Regions from separate parts of the Homo sapiens genome. Here regions 1 and 3 are each linked to region 2. The links come from fine-mapping of genetic effects on gene expression. A gene starts in region 2. Each other region holds a variant in brackets. All regions are shown on one strand. Distances are between the middles of the regions.

What was found.
Region 1: its variant is fine-mapped to the expression of ZNF706 in tibial artery (GTEx, PIP 0.98).
Region 3: its variant is fine-mapped to the expression of ZNF706 in nasal epithelium (TOPMed, PIP above 0.99).

Annotation. Positions count from the first base shown.
Region 1 is chr8:101,284,255-101,292,439 of GRCh38, forward strand. All of the region lies in intron 4 of LOC107984005 (a long non-coding RNA gene), which reads left to right. Among named protein-coding and RNA genes, the nearest start is that of LINC02844, 25 kb to the left of the region's middle. RefSeq lists an enhancer at 3,136-4,335. The variant G/A (reference allele first, on the strand shown) is at 3,818.
Region 2 is chr8:101,200,686-101,208,870 of GRCh38, forward strand. It overlaps ZNF706 (zinc finger protein 706), which reads right to left and starts at 4,988. Exons shown (of 4, transcript NM_016096.5): 1 at 4,750-4,988; 2 at 922-1,058. The coding sequence starts at 1,056. RefSeq lists silencers at 4,523-5,122, 5,333-5,552.
Region 3 is chr8:101,751,907-101,760,091 of GRCh38, forward strand. The region is part of intron 1 of NCALD (neurocalcin delta); the gene reads right to left. Among named protein-coding and RNA genes, the nearest start is that of NCALD, 35 kb to the right of the region's middle. The variant C/T (reference allele first, on the strand shown) is at 4,655.

The DNA of each region.
Region 1 (8,185 bases), 84 kb after region 2:
CATTTATAAAGGAAAGAGGTTTAATGGACTCACAGTTCCTCGTGGCTGGGGAAGCCTCACAATCATGACAGAAGGCAAAGGAGGAGCAGAGGCACATCTTACGTGGTGGCAAGCAAGAGAGCATGTGGAGGGGAACTGCCCTTGATAAAACCATTAGATCTCATGAGACTTATTCACTGTCATGAGAACAGCATGGGAAACTACCCCTCCCCCAACACACACACCATGATTTAATTACCCACCACTGGGTCCTTCCATGACATGTGGGGAAGATGGGAGCTACAATTCATGATATTTGGGTGAGGACACAGACAAACTGTATCAGTACATCTCACAACACCTAGAATCCAGACACCAAGGATGATGCACAACATTTCCCTGTTTTCCCCACCAATTCACCCTTAAGTCTATGTAGAATCAGCCCTGCTGAACATCCTTGAGTTTCTTTTCTCTCTGTGCTCTCTCCTTCCCTCTCCCTTGACATCCCCTAAGCTTTTCCTGCCATAGGAGCTGGATTGCTCCTCTTAGAGTGACATAAATCAAGGTCATGGACATAATGTTCTAGGCAAAATTCTGGGAGGAAGGTGATTCTTAAGCATTTCTGTAGCCAGACGGTGTTATGCAGCATCTGCATCTCTCAGAACTTGCGGGGGTGCTCTGGTCAACTTCCTCTGCCAGTCTCTGCCTCTGAGCCTGATATTGATAATTTCTGCCCTCACTCCCAGCCCAATCTCTGAAATCTCTGCCTACCCACAGGTAGACCAGAAGTACTAGGAAACTCACAGCCTTAGAAGCAGTCCTCAGGGTTGGCGTACAAATACCCCAGCTCACTCCTGCTTGGATGGGATAATTCTGAGTTGAGTATTTTACACCATTTCTCAGTTTCCTACAGGTTTAAGTAGGTTTACTGGCTGCCTGGCCTTCCCCGTGCCACCTCCCCACTTGTATTCCCTGCAATTTTTGAATAAATTACTCACACTCAAATCTTTACCTTCAAATCTACTTTTGGGAAAACTGAAACTCAAACAGCAACCATAGGAGAAGCTCCAGGCCTTTCAGATTCCTGAGTGGAGTTTCTAGCTCAGCACTGCTCCCAAAGAACTGTCTATGATCATAGAAATATCCTAGATCTGTGCTGTCCATAGCCACTAGCCACAGGGACTGCCAAGCCCTTGAAATGTGGCTAGTGTGACTGACAAGCTGAATTTTAAATTTTAACTAACTTTAGTTCATTTCTATTTAAATAGCCACTTGTGGTTTGTGATTGCTGTATCAGAGAGCACATGTCTGAAGGACAATTACACCTTTCTTCTTGTCCATGCTTTGTAGCAGAATTAAAAAGTGATTTTGGCTGGGCATGGTGGCTCACACCTGTAATCCCAGCACTTTGGGAGGCCGAGGTGGGCAGATCACCTGAGGTCAGGAGTTCGAGATCAGCCTGGCCAACACGGTGAAATGCCATCTTTACTAAAAATACACACACATACACGAGATTTGATTTGTAAATACCATAGGTTGGGGGCTGATAAGGAGAAAAGTTGGGGGAGGGTGGGCAGGGAACGCTGGGTTTTGACAATTCCTATTTCACCTGTTTCTCTTGAAGAAAGTTGTGCTTTTGAAGGATCAGGATTTCACTTAAGGCAGATGCTGCCCACAAAAGAATCCCACTGGTAGCACTAAAAAATGACAGGCTTATCTGCACTAAAGGCAAGGCTTGTGCCACTTAGAAGGCTTGAAGTTCTTGTAATTACTTCAAATAAAACCACTCCAGTGTTCTCTTGGTAAAACCCTTCAAAATCCAAGCTAACTGAGTGCCTCTTCTTTCTCTTTTAGCCATATGTTCTTAGAGACAATGTTTTCCATGACCTTGAGTTTATTAGGTTTTCAAGAGAGGTTGAGAGTAGAGTCCTTCAGAGAATGTTAAACACATTTTCCTAGGAGGAAACGCTCTCTAAGAACCATTTGTAGTGCAGAGAAAGAAATCAAAATCTTTTCTGCATAAAGGGTGAAGCCAGGCTGTCCACGTGTACTTAGGACCCTTGAAATTACGAAGAGTTTCACGTTGAGAACGGTCATGTCTCCCTTGCTGCTGGGACACAAAGGATGCAGTGTGGTGACTGGGCAAGTGCCTGGGCTTTGGGGTCACCCTGACCAGGGACTTGATGCCTGATTCTTCCCCTATGTGACTATGAGACTTTGGGCTGGTTTCTTAATCTTTCCTTATCTGTAAAGTGGGCATAATAATAGTACCTGCCTCATAGCATTGGTGTGAAGATGAAATGAAGCAATGCACGTAAAAGGTCAGCACATTGCCTGGCATTTAGAAAACACTTAATCAGTGCTATTATCTTTACCATTGTCATGAGACAGACTCAAGTTCAAATCCCAACTCAGTCACTTATTGATTGTGTGAACTTGGCCAAGTTGCTTAACCTCTGTGTCTCAATTTCTTCACTTTTAAAATGGAGATTAAAATCTACCTTGAAGGATTTTAAGGAAGAAAGGTTATTTGTAGGCAGTACTTGGCATGCAAAAGGTATAACTTAATAATTATTATTATATCTTTTTCTCCTTGTAGTGACAGGCATGTGGTAGGAATGTAACATACTTTGGCTGGATTATTTTTCTCTATGCTGAAAGATATTAATATCAGGCCTCTTTGCAGTTACTTCAGTGGACTACTAAAATTACTTCTTAGTGGACTCTGAAATTTGTATAGTGTTTTATACTTTATCAAGATATGCCAGGGATATCCTCTCTTTTGACTTCTTGCATTTACTCACTGTAGTCAGGGATAAGCTCTATGTTTTATATGTTAATTTCAGTCATGCTTTTGTGCATATTAAAGTCCATTTCAGGGATGAGGAGGCTAGGAACAGGAAGAAGCTCACAGTAACTGAGAACTTTGTACCCTGCACTGTGCCCAGATTTACCCATACTATCTCATTTTGTCTCCATAGCAATCCTTTGCTATTCCTCGAATAGGCTATTATTATATCCATTTCACAGGTAGGAAAACTGAAGCAAAGAGAGGTTCAACACATCATCCAAGATGACACAAGGTGGAGCCAACTTTCAAAGCCAGGCTGTCTCCCTCTGGAGCCCTAGTTCTTCCTCACTCTGCTATCTTGCCACACCATGGCTTTTTTGGCTTTTTTTCTTCTCCCTCAAGGACCTCTGCTTTGGTGAATTCTTGCCAAAATGAACCTCAGAGACATACATCTAAGGACCTTGCGTGCACCAAAGAGGGTGGGTGGAGGGGGCAGAGCTTCCTGGGGGTCCACTCTAGGGCCTGCAGGAGGCCTGACCTTGGGCAGACAGCCCTAGCCTCAGCTCTTCTTATAGCTCCCCTGCTCTTTCCTCTTCTTGAACTGCTGGGTGCCAGCATCAGTTCAGCTCTTTCCCCCCACCCTCTGCTCAAGGCCTAGGAGGACAGCAGCTGTCCCTACTTGCTGCACTGTGGGGAGGCGCCTGTGCTCACTGCTCTGCTGTTGAAGAGCTCAGTGAAGCATATGATGTGACTGTGGATATCCAACTGCTTTAGCTGACATCTTGGTAAGTGGCTTCCCACTCCAGTTCCGTGGAGGCCTTTCCCCGTTCTGATGTAGACCCGTGGGGTGAAGACTGGTGGGTCAGTGGGCATGCGGGGTGTGCTGGCATGTATGCCGCAGGGGGTCCAAGCAAGTTTGCTAGGTAGGTCTCATTTCTCCCTCTCGTTCTCTGTTTCTCTGTCCAGCAAACTGGATGGATGTTATTTCACAGACACAAAAGTGTTACAAAATCCAGCCCCCCTCCTTTGTTTTTTAAGCAAGATGGC[G/A]TCTCCTTTTCAGGCTTGCTGTGGTGGGCTGAGCCGTAACCTTACATGGGCGGATCCAGGCTTCATTTCACATAATTCACATTCTTGGCTTCCTGAGTCACTGTCATCATCTAACCTTTCCTGACAGCCAGGAGTGTGTGGGCGTGGATGGACAGGGAATCAGATAAGCCCCATCCATCTGTGCACACATCTGCTCGGGACCCCTTTACCTGATTCTAGAGAAAGCCTTTCACATTTAAAATAACGTGACTAAAAAATTCTTGTGTGAATTTCTTAATCCCTTGCTGGAGTCAGTGGACATTTTTGGACCAGGAGACATATGGCTGCCAAGAAAGGCTGAATCAGAAGGCAGGCAGCATCTCTTTAAATCCAAAACCTCTTTAACTGTTGAGTAGAAAATCAGAGTTCAGCATAGTGGCAGATTGTCAAGTTGTTCTCACAGTGAGAATCGTTATCCAAACCTAGTCTTATTCTGCATGCTTTCCTATTTATTCTCTTTAATCTCATGTCTTCTGAGACAGATTCCTCTTCTGCAGTAGACCCAGCCTTATCAAAACAGGAAGCAACTGTGGAAGCTTTCTCTGGGAAAGTAATCCCTGAGTGGCAGATGACTTCCAGGCTTACATTTTACCCCTTTCTCATCTGCCACATGCCCACTCCCTACATCTCCATCCCCTGGTTTGTGTAGAAAGCCATAATAAAGGACAATCCCTGGGAGCTCTTCCAGGGGTCTGCAGTGAGGATGAAGCTGAGGGCGTGTGTTACAGTCCACAGTGGTCACTTGGTGAGGCTCATCTGTGCTTGTCAGGAACTGGCTGGCTTCTATCCCAGGGACCTTGTAAGCTGTCTAACTCGGGCACACTCTCAAAGGCCCAGGGCACAATGCAGGCAACAGGTAAGGCACGTGGAGAAGTGGGGAGCACAGGTAAGGTTTAGAGGGGCAGCTACTTTCGCCTGTCAGGTGGGAAAGAGGCCTAGTGCTGCTGCATCTTCTGATTTTTTTTAAACAAGAGAAGCCAGATGGTCAGGCATCATGGCTGTCTGTAATCCCAGCACTTTGGGGGCCGAGGTGGGCAGATCACCTGAGGTCAGGAGTTTGAGACCAGCCTGGCCAACATGGTGAAATCCTGTCTCTACTAAAAATACAAAAAATTAGCTGGGTGTGGTGGTGCATGCCTGTAATCCCAGCTACTCGGGAGGCTGAGGCAGGAGAATTGCTTGAACCCGGGAGGCGGAGGTTGCAGTGAGCAGAGATTGTGCCACTGCACTCCAGCCTGAGCAAAAGAATGGGAGTCCCTCTCAAAAAAACAAAAAAGCCAGAAATACATATTTTTAAAAAAATATAAAATATTCCAATTTTTTAAAGGCTGACAGCCAACCAATAACAAACAGACAATACTGCAAAAACCCAAATGGAATATATCTGGGGGCTGCATTTGGCCCACAAGTCACCCATTTGCAACCTCTGGAAAAGCCTTCCTGAATTGACGCCTAAAGCCATGTTTGTGGTCTCCCCTTAGCAAACTTAGAGGATGCATGGGGTGTATTTTTGATACTTGATCATATTTCAGGGTTCATTTTATGTAGCCTTGTGTTTCCTTTGCTTCTTCATCATCATTTAATTCTATTAAATGTTATCTCATCCAACTGCATGTATCACCAAAGATGCCTTTTTGGAATAAGAAAGATAAATGAATTTCTTAACTGCAACATACTTGACCTCCCTGTTCTCCCAGGTCCCCACACTGGGCTAGTCTTTAGCTGAGTGCTGATGAGTCTAAGACGATCATGGTAATTCCTTCCCAGGGATTGGTTTTGGCATGCTCATGTGACACAACTCTAACCAATGACATGTAAGAGAAAGTATGGGGGAGGAGTGTACGTTGGAAAAGTTTTTTTAATGAAAAAGCTCTTGGACTCTTTAAACCATTGTGAGTCCCAGAGCTGACAGCCCTGGGACTTCCTCCTTCTCCTGGTTAAGTGAGATAACTAGTTTTTCTTATTATTCAAGCGACTTTTATTCAGGTTTTTCTGTTTGTAGCCAAAGCATCTGAGTTGATATAAAAAGGAAATTTCTAGGTCGTTAGCCATGCTCAGCTCACAAGATCAGATAATTTACCTATTCAGAGGGGATAGGCTGACTGCTCCTCAAGGGCCACCCTATTGAGAAGACCAAACTGTAGATTTCCATCTCTGCTGCTATTGCGGGTGGGTTGCGGGAGGCTGCAGGCACATTCCCTCCATAGCATTTACTGATTGCCTGCGTGAAGAATCCTTAATTCCAGTAAGCATGGTGAATGTGAGCAGAAGGAACTAGGTGTATTTTTAAGGACAGCCTCATGGAGTTCTAGAGATGAAAGCTGAAGGAATTTTCCTGAAAAGGACTGGGTAAGTGCATTTTCTTCTCACAACTAGTTAGAGTTCCTAAACTGTTAGGATGATGCCAGGTTTTGTTGATTTTTTTTTCTTTTCTTTTTTCTTTTTTGAGATGGAGTTTCACTTTTGTCGTCCAGGCTGGAGTACAGTGGCATGATCTTGGCTCACTGCAACCTCTGTCTCCTGAGTTCAAGCCATTCTCCTGCCTCAGCCTCCCAAGTAGTGGGGATTACAGGTGTGTGCCACCACACCCAACAAATGTTTCTATTTTTAGTAGAGACGGGATTTCACCACGTTGGCCAGGCTGATCTTGAACTCCTGACCTTGAGGGATCCGCCTGCCTCTGCCTCCCAAAGTGCTGGGATTATAGGCGTGAGCCACTGCACCCAGCCGATTTTTTTTCTTATATCAAATATTTGAACCATGTTTAGCTCTCACTTTTCTGCAATAAGCTACGAAATGTGATTTGTGACACCTAGAGATGCACCAAGGGCTCAATAACCCACGAGCCCCCCTAAATGCATGGATAGGACCAGCCTGAGGCAAAGCTGTGATATGGGCCCTCCCATCCCACAGTGTCAGTGGACCCAGATGGGTCACCCTCTGGTCTGGGAGTCCTCTCCCTACCTCTGGAAGAAATGTTGGGTTTCTTCCAACATTTGCCATTTCCTGAGCCCATCAAAGCTACAGAAAGTCCTGCTAGTAATAAAGAGGATGGTGATAGTAGTATGAGCCACAGCAGTAGTAGTAAAGCCTAACCACACCGAGACCTTGTATGTGTTAGACACTTTAAGTACTCTATCTATAGTAACTCATTTAACTCACAAAAACCTGGAAGGTAAGTTATCCTCATTTGACAGATGAGAGAGCTGGAGCCAAAGTCACATAGCTAGTTGGTGGCAAAGTTGGGATTCAAAGCCAGGCAGTCTCATTCTGGGCCTTGTGCCAGATGAATGTGCCACTGTCCTCTCAAGTGTTAAGTGATTACTCCTGGGGATGGGGAGAGGGGTAGGGGGACTTTTTAAACATTTTTAAACATGCACTAATTTTAGCTGACTTAAAAATGTTAGACATGACAGCCAGCACACACTCTTGGAAGTTCGTGTCTAGAGACTGCACCTTAACATCTGCTATGATAGCACTCATAGCCCATCTTCCCACATGGCTTCTGAAAAACCACTACCATTGTTTCCATTGATGAGACCCAGGAAGAGAGGAAATCGAGGATGGATTTTATGGTTACAGTTTGGGGGCCTTTATGTGGTTCCTGGACAACCTTGGCTAGAACACCCCCGGCTTTAGGGGGATGGTAGTGGAGAATTAGTCAAGTAAAGACATATGAAATCTGGAATTATGCAATTTCTAATTCTTGGGCAGGGTGTTTATCTTGGCTCTTAGACTGCAGAGTTCATAACTCAAGAGTACAGCTACTGATATATTTTTACAAAGTGATTATCTGATTTTCTTGGTTTCGATGTCTTTCATCAGTTAGGTGTCAATGGCTACCTATGCTCTGGTTACTATGGTTGCATAACAATTACCTCCCCCCGCATCCCCATTCCCAAACATAGTGGCATAAAACAGCCATGTATTAGGCTCACACATTCTGTGGGTCAGGAATTTGATCAGGGCAGAGGAATTCTATGGAGCAGAGACAAGAGGATGGCTGGCTTGACTCTACTCCACAGTGTCTGGGGCCTCAGCTGAAAGCCCTGAAGACTGCAGGCTAGAATCTTCTGAAGGTTTGTCCATTCACATGTCTGGTGGTGGATGCTGGCTGTTGGCTGAGGTCATCAGTCCCTCCCCATGTGGCCTCTCCACTTGGACTTGTTTGGACTTTGTCGCTGCATGTTGGCTGGAAAGCGAGCACTGGGAGGGCTTGGAGGGGGAGGAGAGGTGGAAAGCAATGCAAGCAGTGGATGGAGGCTCTGACCTTTTTGGGATCTAGCCTCTGAAGTCACAGAGCATCAGTCACTTCCACCATTCTTCAGT
Region 2 (8,185 bases):
TTAAAATTTGCACCCTGCCTCTTTCCAAACAATCACAAGCTGCTCAATTTCATTATTTTGAGTGTATATGTAGTGTACTAACTCCACTATGGTTTCCTTTGGTACTGCCACTCACTAACTTCAAGGGTAATGAGCTTAAACAAACAGGCAAGAGGCTCTGATTTGGAATTTCAGAAGTACTTCTTTGAGAGGCAGTACAGTAGTGGTCCAGAGGGTGGACTCTGGAGCTGAACTGCCTGAGTTCAGATTCCAGCTCTTCTACTAACCAGCTGGGAGACCCCACACAAATTGTTTAATTTCCATTAGTCAGTTTACTCTTCTGTAAAATGAGAACAATAAAAGTACTTTATCTTATAGGGTTGTTATGTGGATTAAATAGGTGAATACATGTAAAACACCTGGCTCTATGTGTGGCATATGGTAAGCACTCAAAAGTAGCTGTTATTATTACAGTTCTTCAAATCTAATACAACACATTAATTCTAGGAAAAGCTCTCAACGTGATTATACTCTATATGGTTTTACAGACATCCTAATTATAAATTTAGTGAAGAAAAAACCAATTATATAACTAGAGGTATACTTACTAGCATATTATATAGCTCTAAGAGTGTAGAGTTATATGATGTGCTAGTGAAGTGTATTATATGCCCTTATGAAGACATCTTTATTTTATATGAGGAAAGCAATTTTGTTTTGTTCACTCTGTTTTCCCAGCACCTAGAGATTTTTGCCTGGCCACAGGAGCCATTCAAAAAATATTTGTTTAAAGGGTGAATGAAAATAGATACCTAAAATAATCAGCTCTCAAACCTACTATTTCATGTAAAGCATCTATTTTGCCATGGTTTCAAAATTTTAATCTATTCAAGCCAAAACTGCCCACGGGAGAGCTGTATCTTTCAATTCAATTCCCCTTACCCTACAGACAGTGCAGGTATATATTAAGGCAGCTTTGGCAGCAGCCTTTTGGTCATGTCCTTGTTTCTTCTTTTGTCCAGCTTGCTTTTTGGCATTTTTCTGCTGAGACTGAATTTTCTGCTGTCCACGAGCCATATCTAAAAACAGAAGGTGAAGCATTAGAGTGGCTTATTTACTCTAATACAGAGTAATCAAAGCATAAGAACGTTCTTAGAATTGAAGCCTTAAGTTTTATAGAAATATCTGGCAAATAAAAATTTATAGGTATTAAAATTCCCACATATAAATGCTACAAAAGTATCAATTGACACAACCCTGTGGAAAACTAGTTGGTAGCTGTTTATTCTATGAGCCAGCAATTCCACTCTTGGTATATACCCAATAGAAATGCAAATGTTATGTACACCAAGACATGTACAAAATGTTCTGAGTGCCCATTCCAAAACTGGAAAAAATCTGAATGCCCATCAATAGTAACACGGATGCACAACTTGTATACATATTTTTATAGTATTTATACAACGGAATACTACCCAGCATTTAAAAAATTGTGGCCAGGCGCGGTGGCTCACGCCTGTAATCCCAGCACTTTGGAAAGCCAAGGCGGGTGGATCATGAGGTCAGGAGTTCAAGACCAGCCTGGCCAAGATGGTGAAACCCTGTCTCTACTAAAAATACAAAAAAAAAAAAAAAAAAAAAAAATTAGGCAGGCATGGTGGTAGGCACCTGTAATTCCAGCTACTTGGGAGGCTGAGGTGGAGAATTGCTTGAATCCGGGAGGCAGAGGTTGCAGTGACGCGTGATGGCACCACTGCACTGCAGCCTGGGCGACAGTGAGACTCTGGTCTCAAAAATAAATAAACAAACACACAAACAAAAAATTGTTACAAGTAACAACTTGGTTGTATCTCAATGTTAAAGGAAAGAAGCCAGTTGTGGGGAATATACATTATTTAAAGTTCAAAACAGGCAAAGCTAATCTATAGTGAAAGGGGTCACCTTGGGGGTTATGGGTAATGACTGGGAAGACAGGACATGAAGGGGACTTATGGGGTCCTGAAAATGTTCTTGAATCAAGTGTGTTTACTTATAAAAATTCATTGAATTGTACACTCAAGATTTATGCACTTTACTGTATGTAATCTTCACAAGTTTACTAAAAAAGTTTAGCCCCCGCTATCATTTACTTGATCACTCTGCAAAAGTAATTTCCCTTCCCAGTATTCATTGTGACTTGCGATTGTGATTTTTATAACTTTAAGAGAAATAAAAGCTGTCTGTTACTCCTTCTAAAGGAGACCTCAGAAATAGGTGGAAACTGTTTTCTTACTTAGTTTTCATAAAACTACTGTTATTAATTTTTTTAAAAAGTTGGTCTTGCTGGATTGCTGAACAAATTATAAAATGAGATTATCAGCAAGCCACTAATTCCAGAAGTTTCTTTGCTCTCTAGACGTTAGTTCCCATTTGAGGGAATGAACTTGGTTAAGAGGGTTCTTTTACAAAGCTGAAAGATACCACTTTTTGTTACCGATGATCTGACGTGAACCCAAATGGATTAAAACAAAAAAAAAAATCAAGTCACTGAAAAAAGTTACTTTTACTTTTCCATTTAAATTAAAGGCTTTTATTCGACCACACAAGTTAAACCTGCTCATAAAGTCTATCATGAGTCTCAATTGCTTTTTAAATATATCAAAATTGGATCCTAAGTAGAATTCATATATATATAGTTTTGACTAGTACTGTAACTGAATGTAAATCATTGCAGGACAGGAACATACAATGGATTTGTATCAACTTCACCAGGGAAGGGTGCTAGCTTCTTCTGACTAGGACCATAATTAGTTAATGGATATGAGGTCAAAGCATTTCATAAAAATTACTGAGCTCCTCCTGTTCCCCAAAAAAGGAAACTAAAAAAATACACTGATTGGAGAAGTTCCCACTAGCATTAAAAAAATGAACTGAAAGTCAGATAAAATATAAAAGAGGGTCAATGCTTTTCAGGATAGTCAGCTGACTATTTCAACTGAGGAAATATGGGGTTTTTATATTAGGGTAGCACACGAGCCTAATACATTTTCGTAATTGAAAATGTTTAGCGTGCTAGCCTAATATGAGAACCCCATTCCCACCAAACAATGGTAAATATTACCAGCTGTTATCAGTCCTTGAAGACTAAGCTTCCATTTTTGCTTTAAAAAAAATTATTAATTCTAAGCCAAATGGCACATTTTTTTTAAAAGTGTATTTAAGTCCGATGTTACCGCAAGCTTACAAACCTATTCCCATGGAAACAGGTTTGGATACTTATGTATTATTTGGACGACAGTAGTCACGTGATCAGCCTTTATGTATACCAATGTTTTGCAAGGTTTTTTGTCTCAATGTCTTACTATCAGGACCTTGTAACAAAATAGCCAGTCTTCTCACACATCTTAACTCTTCGACACAATGTATTTTATGTATCTTAATACACTGATTTTGTGGGAAATCTTGTTTTATGTTAAAAAAAATCTTCAAAAATGGTAAGCCACTAATTTCAGAAGTTCCTTTGCTTTCTAGAAGTTACTAGCTATTTTGATATTTCCATGTTGTGACTCGTACAAAGCAATGTCATTAGACACACAAAATTATTTTTAACTTTTGCACTTAGGACTTTCCCTAAAATATAACATTACACAATAGATTCAACCCATTTTCCATTGTCACCAAACAGCAACCAAAAAGACCGAAGAGACTTAATAAAGACAGTAGTCACTTGTTCTTATTCTGAAGACAGAAAACTTAACACCAGGTAAAGGAAATGGAATAAAATAAGCTAAATGCATGAGGTAGGCCCCTAACTTCTGACAACACGCCCCATCGATTTCCTTTCTGAAAGCAGAAATTCAAACGAACCAACCACCTGCTTTTGGACAGCTCAACTTAGGACTTGCTCTCAAGCCAACACAATTTTCTACAAAATCGTAGGCAGCTACAACCGCTCCTTGATTAAATGCGACAAACTGGAGGGAAAAAGTCACTTACAAATACCTACATGCTGGTTTTTAATGCAACTCTCAGTGTGGTTTTCCGAGGGGGCTGCAAAGAGGGAAGTAGTGGAAGAAACGAGTTCTAAAATGAGGCGCTCTCGTAGGAGGCAACAAGTAAGCTCTGCCCCAAAGCTCCTTTTAAAACCAACATAAATGAGTAACAGAAGAAAAGGATTTTGGGTCCAGGAAGTAGGCTCATTCTCCATAACCATCGGAAAGGAAGAGGCCCAGGCAGCGCTCCACATCCTGACCCTAGCTTTTAACACCATCGTTTTGGGGAGAGGAGAGGAGGAACGCACCCACAGTGAGGTCTCCACCCAACACTTCTCCGACCCCAGCTTCAGCCTGGCGCACCTTCCTTCCCAAACCCGCCTCTCCCGCCTCGGAGACCCCCTCCTCCTCCCTGCCACCAAAGGCCACGCAGCCCCCATCTAGCCAGTCCTCACGGACCCTGGACCAAGACGCGCCTCCTGGAGGCCGAGACTGCCCGAAACCCGGCCCCTGCGTCCACCGGGAGCGCCACACTCTGGCAGCTGACCGGCGGCTGTCGCCGGGGGTAAGGTTACCGCTCCGCTTCCGCGGCTGGCCTGCGACCCGGCCACCTGCAGGGCCTGGCAGGCGCCCGAACTCATCCCCTTCCCGCGGCCCGCCCCGGGCCGGGCCCTGCCGCCCCCCGCGACCCCTCGCGACCCGCGGCGAGTCCCACGGTCCCCACCGCCCCCCGCTGGCCGGCCCCCGCCCCGTTTCCCGGGCGTCCCGCGGCGTCAGCACCGCCCCCGCTGCCGCTCACCCGGGCCGGGACAGTCTTGCGTCGGAGAGACAGTGCAGCGCGAGAGGGCCGGGAGAGGACGCCGGAGGGAAAGGAAGGGGGAGCGCGCCCAGCACCGCTTGGGCCTCCTCCACCCGCTCAGGAGGGGAAACACGAGAGCCGGGAGCACAACAGCCTCGCACGCCCGCCGCCGCCGCGCGCCCGCCGCCGCCTCAGCCTTAGGGGAGACCACTACGCCTCGTGCCCGCGCACGCCGCGCCGCTCTCCTCGGCGCCCCCGCCCCGCCTGCTCCTCGCAGCCCCGCCCATGTGCCTTTCTGCGGCTGCCTCCTTCTGGCCCCCACCCCGCTCGCACGCCTGCGCCCTGGCTGGTCGCGCGGGCCAATGGCAGCGCGCCCCTATTACATAAGCGCGAGGGGGCGGGCCCTGGCTGACACAAACTTCAGGGGACGTCGCCTTCTGTCCCCAGGCGCCCCTCCTCTCCGGCGCGCTCGGTCCGGGCGGCTTCTTCACCCAGCCCTGGGAGCCACGTGATCCCGGTCCTGGTTGGTGACCGGGCCGCGGCGTGTTTCACAAGTCGCTCGCTCGCTCATCCACTCGGGCGGCGGCCGGGCCTCAGGCGCTGCGACCCTTTTCCCGCTCCTCCCAGGCTGACGCGCCCGTCTCGGCGCCGCCCTCCTCGGCACCGACTGAGGCGCTGGCCCGGGAGCGGATCGCGGGGCCGCGGTGGCTGAGTCACATTCCCGGAGCCCCGCCACCCAGGACACCGCGGCCCCGGCCCCCAGCGAGCCCGGCGGACCCAGCGGCTCTGAACGCGGACGCACAGCCTTTGTTCTTTCACAGCCGCCCTTTACCTCACTCCCATGGAAACCCCAGGTGTTTTCCCAAGCTGGGGGCTTTTAGTGAGTTCAAGATTCAAGCCTAAGTCGTATTAAAAATTGCTGGCTAGGCCGGGCGCGGTGGCTCACGCCTGTAATCTCAGCGCTTTGGGAGCCCAAGGCAGGAGGATCACTTGAGCCCAGGAGTTCCAGACCAGCCTGAGTACATAGCGAGACCCACGTCTCCACAAAAATAAAATAAAATAAAATAAATAGTGGAGCATGGTGGCCCGCGCCTGTAGTCCCAGCTACTCGGGAGGCTGAGGTGGGAGAATCGCTTGAGGCCGGGAGGTGAAGGTTGCGGTAAGCCGAGATCGCGCCATTGCACTCCATCCTGGGCGACTGAGTGAGACCCTGCCTAAAAAAAAAAAAAAACAAAAAAAGAAAAAAAAATTGCTGGCCAGGCTTCCCGGAGGGGTTTAGTTTGACTGCTAACAATATACGGTACTGAGTTGCTAATCCTTCGGGGAATGGTTAAAGTTCTTTGCGCGCGCTCTCTCTCCATTTACAGGCAGTGGCAGCAAACTTTCAATATCTGACAAGAGCAATGGCGATTATAACCATGATTAAAATTGCTGAATATCTGGAAACAGTACTTTAGACATCAGCTTTATTGTGCATACTTACCCCCGACCCCCGCCACATTCGTTTCTAATTAGAACTACTAGTGACAAAGGAGAAAAAAAAAAAGTGTTTGCATTGGCTGTTCTCACCTTGCCTGTAGTGCCGTTTCCCAAGTTTGCGTGGCAGTGCCCAGGAAATGTTGGCTGAATATTAGTATATCCCAAATGACTTGGACTGGGCTATAGATACCACAGAATTGTTTAAACTAGCCAGGAAGGAGTTAGCTGCCTATTGCATTTGAGTGGAGAAAAATACGAAATGAAACATGGCATGCAGTGATCCGGGTGTTCAGTTCTCCCTCTTCATCCTCATTTCAGCTTCTCTCACCTTCACTTTTTATGCTCTGACTTCCTTCTTGCAGTTTTAAATTACTCTCTAGTCCTAGATTGTAAGATTATTTTCATCAGGGAATACGCAGTATGTTAAACATAGTAGACGTTGAATAAATGGATATTGATCAAATGAACCGAGTATGTCTGAAGAAAGCAGCTTTTAAATTGACATAGCATGAAGCTCTAGCTTAGTCACTAATAGTCACTGTAACCTTAATGGTTGTGTTAATCTGGCTGATAGAGGGATGGGTACTTGTTGGCCCTAGAAATGGGAACTTCAAAGATCTGTGTTTATCTAGCCGTGAATGACAGTAGACAGTGGAAAGGGACAGTGAAATTTGTGTGGCAGAGATATGTCTTCTTAACTAAAGAGGTGACTCCTATTGTGAAGTAGGTTAATATGTCACTCTTTACCATGGCCTAGATGAAATATGTATTCAAGCTAGTGTTTCTTAAGTTTTTGAGTCATAACTCCTTTGAGAATTTGGTGAAAGCTATTGACTTTGCCCCCAGAAAGTTCATGTACTTATCATGTAACTTATCCTCATAGGTAGTGTTTCTTAATCTCAGCACCGTTGAAATTTGGGCTGGATGATTCTTTATTATGGGGCTCTGTGAGACCTGGGGATTGTAGGATGTTTAGCAACATCCCTGTCTCCTACCTGCTTATCCAAGTAGCACCTCATCTCCAGTTGTGACAACTAAAAATGTCTCCAGACATTGTGAAATGTTCTCAGGGGGTCAAAGTCTCCCCTGATTCAGAACCACTGCCTAGAGGATATGGCATAATGGTAACTTTATGTGATGGTTAGGGAATTTGAAAAAAAAAAAAAAAAAAAGAAACAAGGAATGGATAAGATTCAACATCTGTGAAGTGACACTCAGTAAATGAAAGGCGGATGAATTAGCATTACTACCAGCTGGTGTCCTACTTATGTTATAGAAATGTGACAGCAAATGTGATATGAACTCCTTAGAAGCATTTTTATACACATTGCTGGCTTTAATTGTGAATGCTACAGTAACTCTCCTGACTGTTTTTCTTCTTCTGCCTTTAGACAATTACCCAAGGTTAAGATGCAATAAACATGTGCCTATTTTCTATCCAAAATCTCAATCAGATTAAAATGCTTCTCTAAAGACCTGAAAGGCTTATTTGTTTATTTGTATTCATGTAGGATTTGGGGGGATGAAAGAATTGGTGATTAATCAACATATTATTTTCCCAATAAACAGACTATTCTGACAAATGTTTAGTGGCAAATAATAGCAACAGCAATAATGGCAACAATAAACTTAGAACAGAAATGGATTTATTTTTATTTATTTATTTTTTACCAGCTCTTTCTCTTTCACTCGCTTCTGCATGTTGAGATTTCTCACACATGCAACCTAGATCTTCTTGTCTTCTTTATATTCTTTCTCCAAAGGAATCTCATTCACTGTTGTGCCTTTAAATAGCAAGCTTCAGGTGACCCCCACATTTCTATCTCCAAATTGACATATCCAAATGCCTACTACTCATCTCCCCTCTGATGTCTTATAGACATTCACATTTAATAGCATATTGTATTGAGTCTAAGGAGCCATTAATTGTAAGTCACATTTATGTCCACTAAGATTA
Region 3 (8,185 bases), 550 kb after region 2:
GAATATTATTTATTTCCAAGTTAGAAGTATAAATTTATCAGGCATTTCCAGAAAAAGATTATTTCCCCCAAACAATGGCATGTTTTGGCTACTGTAAATATAAAACTTAATTCCATTACTTCTGCTCATTAAATATATATTTTAAAGTTTCCGATTTTATTATGCCATTAGAAACAGGTTTTCTCTTAAATATTTTGTATAATATGGTCATTTTCTTGGTCTTCTAAATGATCCTTGCTAAGAATACAATAAACAGTAAAATATATATAATTCATCCATAAAAAATGCAACTTCCAGCTATAATTCAGTGAAGTTGAATAGAAAGCATAACTTACATCTGCTTCTTTATTTCTAATAACTGTAAAAATAACTAAAATATTCTAGAGGTTATAGTCATGGAGACAGCACCACTACCTTAAAAAAGTAAAATATAATTTGTTGAGGAACATCTAAGTGGAAGAATTAAAAACTAACAGAGAAAAACAAACCTAACCAAAATAATTAAATTCTAGTTTCTCTCTTTTTTCAACTTGGATTAGTCCATAACAACTTAGTGGCCTGAAGTAACCACAACAAAGAGTGATTTCCAAACCTGGCAAATTTTAAAAGCTTAGATGAGTTGGAACACACAAAAGATAACCTATGTATCAGAAATCCAGGAGTGGTGGTCAAATAACATGAAATTATCTTGTGCTCTTTCATCCCCAAATTGAGTTTTCTTAAGCTTTATTTTCACCAAGTAAAGTGTTTGGACTAGGTTCCAATGCTAACGGACCATAAGGTAGAAAAAGAAAGCTGGTGTGATAAATAACGGATAAATAAGGTACAGCCCTGCTCTGCAAGAGCTAGCAATCTAGTGCTCAGCAATATAATGTGAGCTACAAATGTCAAATGATGTATGCAATTTGAAATATTTTAGTCACCACATTGAAAATTAAGAAGAAAACTTTATTTAACCAAAATGGAATTTCAACATGTAACAATTTTAAAAGTCACCAATGAAATATTTTACGATCCTCTTTTTTTGTTCTAAATCTCTGAAATTCAACATGTATTTTATTCTTACAAGCCATCCCAATTTGAATTTCAATGCTCAATTTCACGTGCTCAGTAGCCACATGTGGCCAATGGTACCATGTTGAACAGGAAAGATAGCGGGAGGCACAGAGAATATACAAATAATTCAAATGCATGACTGTCTCTTATTAGGGCTATAAAAGAGACATAAATAAAACATCCAGGGCACCTTCAAAGAGGTGGTTGCATCCGAATTGAGTCTTGAGAATCTTAAAGTTAAGAAATGGTATAATCGGGCTTGAATTGTATAAAGGGCTGACTGGTGGATGAAGGGAAGATCAGATGGGTGGGATAAGAAGAGAGAGAAGGAATCAAGAGCGTAGATGGGAGATATTGAGAACCTGGACAAAGGCCAATGTGAATTTAAGAGGTATTTTTAAGGTAGAATTAGGAACTGGACCTGTAGAGACAATATATGACACTGCTGGTGGTTACCCACAACCATTTCTCTTCACTTTCCTGTTAACAAAAACTTGATTTCGTTCAGGAATTTTACACCCTCTACAATGTCATGTTTTTAGGGAAGATGAAAAGATCCCCAGTCCCCAGAGAATAGATATTGATTAGCGTAAGGCAGTTACAATAACTTTATCTTACCATGGACTGGCTTGGGAAGGGACTTGGGATCCAATTTTGGCCAATAGGACAAGTCAGTCTGCAAGGGTAGGGGTGGGGTTCCAAGAAGGGCTTCTTAGATCTTAAGACACAAGGAAGGGATAGTCTCTTTCTGCGTCTAGTGCGTGGTGTGGTGAGGATGAAATGCCTGGAACTGATGCAGCCAATGTATCACTCTGAGGTGGGTGAGTCAACCAAGAACTGAGATTAGCAGAGTGGAATTATGGACTCCTGATGGCATTATTAAACCACAGAATTAGCCAATCCTGGAAGCACTCTACCTCTGGACTTCTTGTTCTGTGAGATAACATATGATTTAAGATATTTTGGGTTATCTCTTATTTACAGTTGACAGCATCCTAATAAATAGGAAAAGAGAAGGATCCAGACAATGCCCCAACCACTGGTAAGAACCGTGAGGTCTTTCCTTTGCACAGCATGTCAGAGCCTGTGAAGTGCTTTCACCTTATGTCCTCATTGGACCCTCCTAACAGCCCTGGGGGGTGTGTCGACAGGTACCACTCTCTGCTTTCACCTGCAAGGTAGAGCCCTCTCCCTAGCTTTCCTTTGCATTTCCAGCAACCAGTACAGTATCTGGAATAATAATTTTAGCTATCATTTAGCTATCATTTCTTGGGCTTTTTCTGTATGTTGGAAACTGTTGGATGTTTCCTATACAAAATCTGACTTTATTCTCTCATTTACAATATCTTACAACAGCTCTACAAGTTGGGTATTGTCTTAGTCTATTGGTGCTGCTATAACAAGATGTCATAAACTGGGGAACTTACAAACAGCAGAAATTTATTCCTCACAGTTCTGGAGACTGGGAAGTCCAAGATGAAGGTGGCAGCAGATTTGATATCTGATATGAGGGCTGGTTTCCTGCTTCATAGAGGGCAACTTCTTGCTGTGTCCTCATGTGGTGGAAGGGGCAGTGGTCTCTCTGGGGCCTCTTTTATAAGGGCACTAATCCCATTCATGACATAATCACTTCTCAAAGGTCTCACCTCCCAATACCATCACCTTAGGGGTTAGGATTTCAACATATGAGTTTGGGGGATGCAAACATTCAGACCATAGCAGGTGTTATCACCATCTAACAGATGAGGGAATTGAAGCTCAGGAGGGTTAAGTTCAAGGTCTCCAGGTAGTGACAGAGGTACAACCTGAACCCAGGTGTCTCTCTGTAAAGGCTGTGTTCTTTACCACCAAGATACACTCGGCACAGGGCCAGTCCATATGTTTATTGAATGAATGAATGAATGAATAAATGAATGAATGGATGGATGAATCAATCAGTCAAAAAATAAATGGATGTTCCAAGAGATTAAGTACCTTACACAAGGTCACTCTGCTAAAGAGCGATCCAGACAGGTCTTCTAACTCCAAGGCCAGTGCCCTTCCTAGCACATCCTATGACTATACTATCACTTATTTGGTACTTGGTTAGACACCACCTTGGATGGTGACTGATAATTTCTTTGTGTGTGAGTCTCATCTCTGCAACTAGACTGTCAATTCTTTGAGGTGGCACCATCTTATTTTGTTTGTAGCTAACATAGCAATCAGAATAATGCACTGTTCACAGTTAAAGTCTTGATTTTTAAAGAAACTACCTTCAAAATACAAATGACTCTAACTCCTGGTTTGCCCTCAACAGTCCCAGTTGATACCGCTGCCCCAACTTCAGTATTAGTAATGTTCCTTTTTACTCTCAGAAGTATTCCCGTTTGGACAATCAATTATATAGTCACCTTAATCATGGTAAACAAGAGTTCAATTTGGCCTGTTTCAGATATGCTCTGTCAACCACGCCCAGCACAGCTGTCTTTGCCTAAAGATGGATCCAACAGCCATCAGGGTTCATGATCAATGCTGGGACACAGATCATTTTCATGCTCATGACTCTTCCTTACCTCTTTCCTCCACCATTCACCCTATCTTCTCCTGTCTCTCAAAATATCTTCTTTTTTCTATTACTGCTTTACCCTCCAGCAGCTTTTCCAGCCCGCATCTCACATCCTAAGGCTTGCAGGCAGAAACCAGGGAATAGGTTTTAAAAAGCCAGGGAAATACATTGTAACATTGCTCCTACAGCCTCACTGCTGTTCTTGGCTGAAATCCTTTCCAACATAAGATAACACTCCTTTGTAAACAGCAAAATAGGAGAAAACAAACCTTTTGTGACTAACCATTTACTTTTGGCTTCCATGTCCTGTGTGAATATGTATGCATTGTGAATGTGGGGACACACAGTAAATCAGATGACTCTTTTACCAGTGAAAACATATAGTGGTGACAAGAGATTCTCAACAGGTTAAATGCTACTATGAGCTCACTTTGAACCACTTCAAGTTCTGGAATCATGACTGATGTGGGGAGAATAAGAAGCAGAACAATTCCTAAACACACACTGTGTGCTGAGCTGTCATCAGACGGGACCTGCCAGAGATTAAGTTTTTGTCCATCTCCCTTCCCCCACCTTTTTTTTTTTTAAATCAAGACAAATGTCAGAAAATCAGATCAGAAGTGGCCTCATTGATGAGTATAAATGTACCGCTAGTGGCTCCATTGTCTATGGAGATAAGTGTTTCAAGGTCCTTTATTTTGAGGATTTAACAGAAAAGCTGGTTCACTGTTTTGGTGAAGGACCTTGGGAGAAAGCTTCCATGAGGTGACAGATCATTAAGAGGACTTCACTCAGCACAACTGGGGCTGTCCTGAGACCCAAGATGTCACTGTATAGGTAAACTCTCCTGGCTGGCACATTCTCTTGGCCTGAATGGTCAGCACGACCAGCTAGGATTCCCTGCAACAATGGATAGGCAATGAGTATCAGACTGTACCTGGCCCGTGTTCAACAGCGCCACTGTGTGGCAGTGAAAAGCAAGTGCAGGGTAGACCAATGAGACCTCAGCAGTCTATGCTATGCATTTGGAAGTCAAGGGCCATCTTTGCA[C/T]GGAATAAGCCCTGGAGATTTCAGGACAATTAAGAGGAGGAAAAAGAACAAGACAGAGATACTGGTTTGCCTGCTAATGAGGTATATTGGATTTCCGAAGAATTAACTAAAATAAGAGGGATGCAACTTTACCTGCACTGCCGTTTGTGAGTGGTTCTCACCAGTTACAAATGCACCTGACAAGAGAATCTGACTGGATGAGATTTTTCTGGTAAGAATATGGCTTGATATACATTGTATGTCTTGTTTTGCAATTATTAAATTTATCCTATTAGAATCTCTACTATGCAGTACATAAGGAATTGACTGACTTTTTCACCTGGCAATGAATAATGCCACAGTACCATGACCACCTTTCCAACATGGGTGTGGCTGAGAACTTCTGGAAGGATGAACACAATCAAAGACAATACTGGCTCCCTTCTTAGTCTCTTATGTCTCTGTCTTTTCTTTAAGATTTATTATTCTTTAGGAACAACATTTTTCCAATAAGCAAAAACTATTTCATGCCATAATCCTTTTTTCTTCCTCTTGCTTCCTCCTGAGTTCCATGTCAATATTTACACATCGCTGCTCACTCCTACTGTTTACCCACCATGGCCTTCAGATCCTGTCCTCAACCTCTCATCAAATAACCTCACATTTTCCATTATTCACTAGAACCTCTCATAACATTTCCATTTCAACAGAAAACAACTTTCTAAGGTCAAGTACTAGTTTCTCTTTTAAAAAGAAAAGTAACTGAACATTCAAGGTGCTATGGCAAGCCATGAGAATACTAGGTAAAGCTATGTGTTACTTTCCAACTGTTCGCTCCATTGTCCTTATCTCTCCGGAACTTAAAACAGAGCATGTCCTGACCTCTGAGGGCTGCAGAGACAACTACTCATAGAGGGCCAGTCATCTCTAGTTTCTGTGACTTTCCCCAATGAATAAGAAGGAGGTAGAGAAGAGCAAGAAGAAAAATGGCTGTCATTCTTTTTATTCCCAGGTCTAATGAAGTATTTTGAATTCCAATGTTCCAAAAATATTTCATTTTTTTCATGAATTTGTGAAATAATTTTTCACTTGGCCTTCTTCATCACCCCAGTTCTAGATGGTAGGGTTTTTTTTTAATATCAATTTTACCTAAAAATTTATTATAGTGTTTCCCCTTTCTCTATCCCTGTATTAATTAACCTTGCCTCCACTCTACCTTCATTTATACCTAGCAAAGTGCCTGGGACACAGTAGGCCTTCAACAAATATAGTGAAGTAAATGTGAACATAATTTCTTGTTTGCACTACTGTACTCATTTCCTAACCCAACCATCAGAGAGGCTATTTTAACAATTTTTTTAGAGCCTCCCACCTCCCAAGTAGCTAGGACTACAGTTGTGTGCTATCACACCCAGATAACTTTTTATTTTTTGTAGAAATGGGGTCTGGCCATGTTGCCCAGCTGGTCTCAAACTCCTGGCCTCAAACATTCCTCCTGCATCAGCCTCCCAAAGCACTGGAATTACAAGTGTGAACTACCATACTGCCTGATTTTTAAACTCACATCTCTTTATGCCACTTTCCTGCTCACCAATACCAATAAATCCCCACTGTCTTCAATGTCATGTCTGATCCTTCAGTCTAATACTACAAATGGCTTTGTAATCTGGCCCCAGCCTGCCTTGCCTAAAGCACTTGACCCTCTCTCCACCCGCTCCTGCTCCAACTCCACAGAAAGGCAGGCCCTTCTTAGCAGGCCCCAGCTCTCCCCCTCCATAGGCTGTCTCCTGCTGACATCCCAGTCTCCACTGTTCCTACTCATCCTGCCTGGATTCCCACCAAATAAAGCCTGAAACAAGTGCTTACTTTCCAATGACAAATCACCATTGATCCTGGGTGACAAATACTGTCTTGAGCACTTTATATAACACTGCAGTATTTCCTTGAATCCCAATACCAATAAAAGCTATGTATTAATTCATTCAGTAATCTGTTCCTCCCATGAATTATGGCAGATCCAGGATTTAACCCTATATGTCTGTCATCAAAGACCAGGTGCTCTTACTCACCACATCCACCACATGTCTTCTGTCCCCATGTGTCCTGACTCTAGGCATGCACCTCTCATACCTCTCGGACCTGTCTATGGTATTCATTACATTGCAAGAGAGTTCTGTCTACAGATTAGAGTTCCCTCACAGGATTATGAACACCTCAATAGCAGGCCTGGTGTTTATATATCTGTTCATCTCTAGTGTCTAGCATAGTGCTGGGACACAGGATGTGTAAAATACTTTTTTTTTGTAGTTTAATTTGAATCTGTGCATCCAATAATAAGAAAGATCCCAACCTACTTAAATTGGAGAGTTGCATCACATGTAGATCTTAGAGCTCTTTTACTACAAAGTACAAATCCAGTGGCCCAATTGGATAATAAGGATGCTGAATCTCCACTTGCCATCCCCAACTTACTTCATACATCAATATTTTTAACTCATTTATAGGAACCTGGCATTGTGATATTCGTGACAACCATCTATAATTCAACCAGCCAAGCACACCAGCAGAAACCGCCCACATTTTCAATAACAGCATTGCTTAATCCGAAATGCTTTTTGGAAGACAAAGAAGCATTCATAAAATGGAACAGTAGTGAATGTTGATAATGAGAAAGTTTTATAACAAAGTGTCTTGCTGATTTATATAGTACTTCCAAGCCAATGGCTAGAAGAAATTTTGATAAAGATTCACTCTCCTAAGCCTAGGCGACATGCCAGAAAGTTGTCAGTGTCTTCGAAGACAAAGAAACTGAGAGAGGGAGAGGGGGAAAAGGAGGGAAGGAAGAAGAGAGTCAGGGAAGAGGAGGAGGAGGAAAGAGAGAGACAGGGATTGCTTTTAATATCTTGATACACCAATGGGGAAAATTGTATGCAGTAAAATGAGGAAAACATCCCAGATTATTTTCTGGAAGGACTTGTCATCTGAATTCAAAGTGGGTCTTGAAGGTATCCCAGGGACCTGCCTGCTGTCAGGGCTAGGAGAGCAATGTTCTCTTTCCTGCAATTATTTCAATTCTGCCACACAATAAGGAGTCCTGGGGGCCAAGGAACAGGGAACTGCATTACTAGACATACATCCCTCAAAGAAGACCAGACAAAATTACCAAAGTTTCAGGTGACCAGACTGAATTTCCAGGAGCTACAGTCACTTCCTTTGTGCAAAAAATATAAAAATGTACAGCTACTCCCAAAACTTGACGAGAGTAGTAACATCTGTCATTCGGGGCATCAGATAAAAATGTATCATCAGTAAGGGCACATGGCAGGCTTAGGTAGAGGGAGAGACTGGGCTGATCCCTGATTAAACAATACCTAGCACTTACTCTCCCTTAGTAGTTCAATTAAGGGCAGTGGCGCTTGCATTTAGACACTGCGGTTCCCAAGGCCACACCAGACCCCAAGGGGTTGGTCAAGTCAAAGATGGTGGGCAATAAACAAGCTGACCCAAGGTTATGGCTCCAGTCCCATGAGCCTGGTTTTGACATGATTCTCC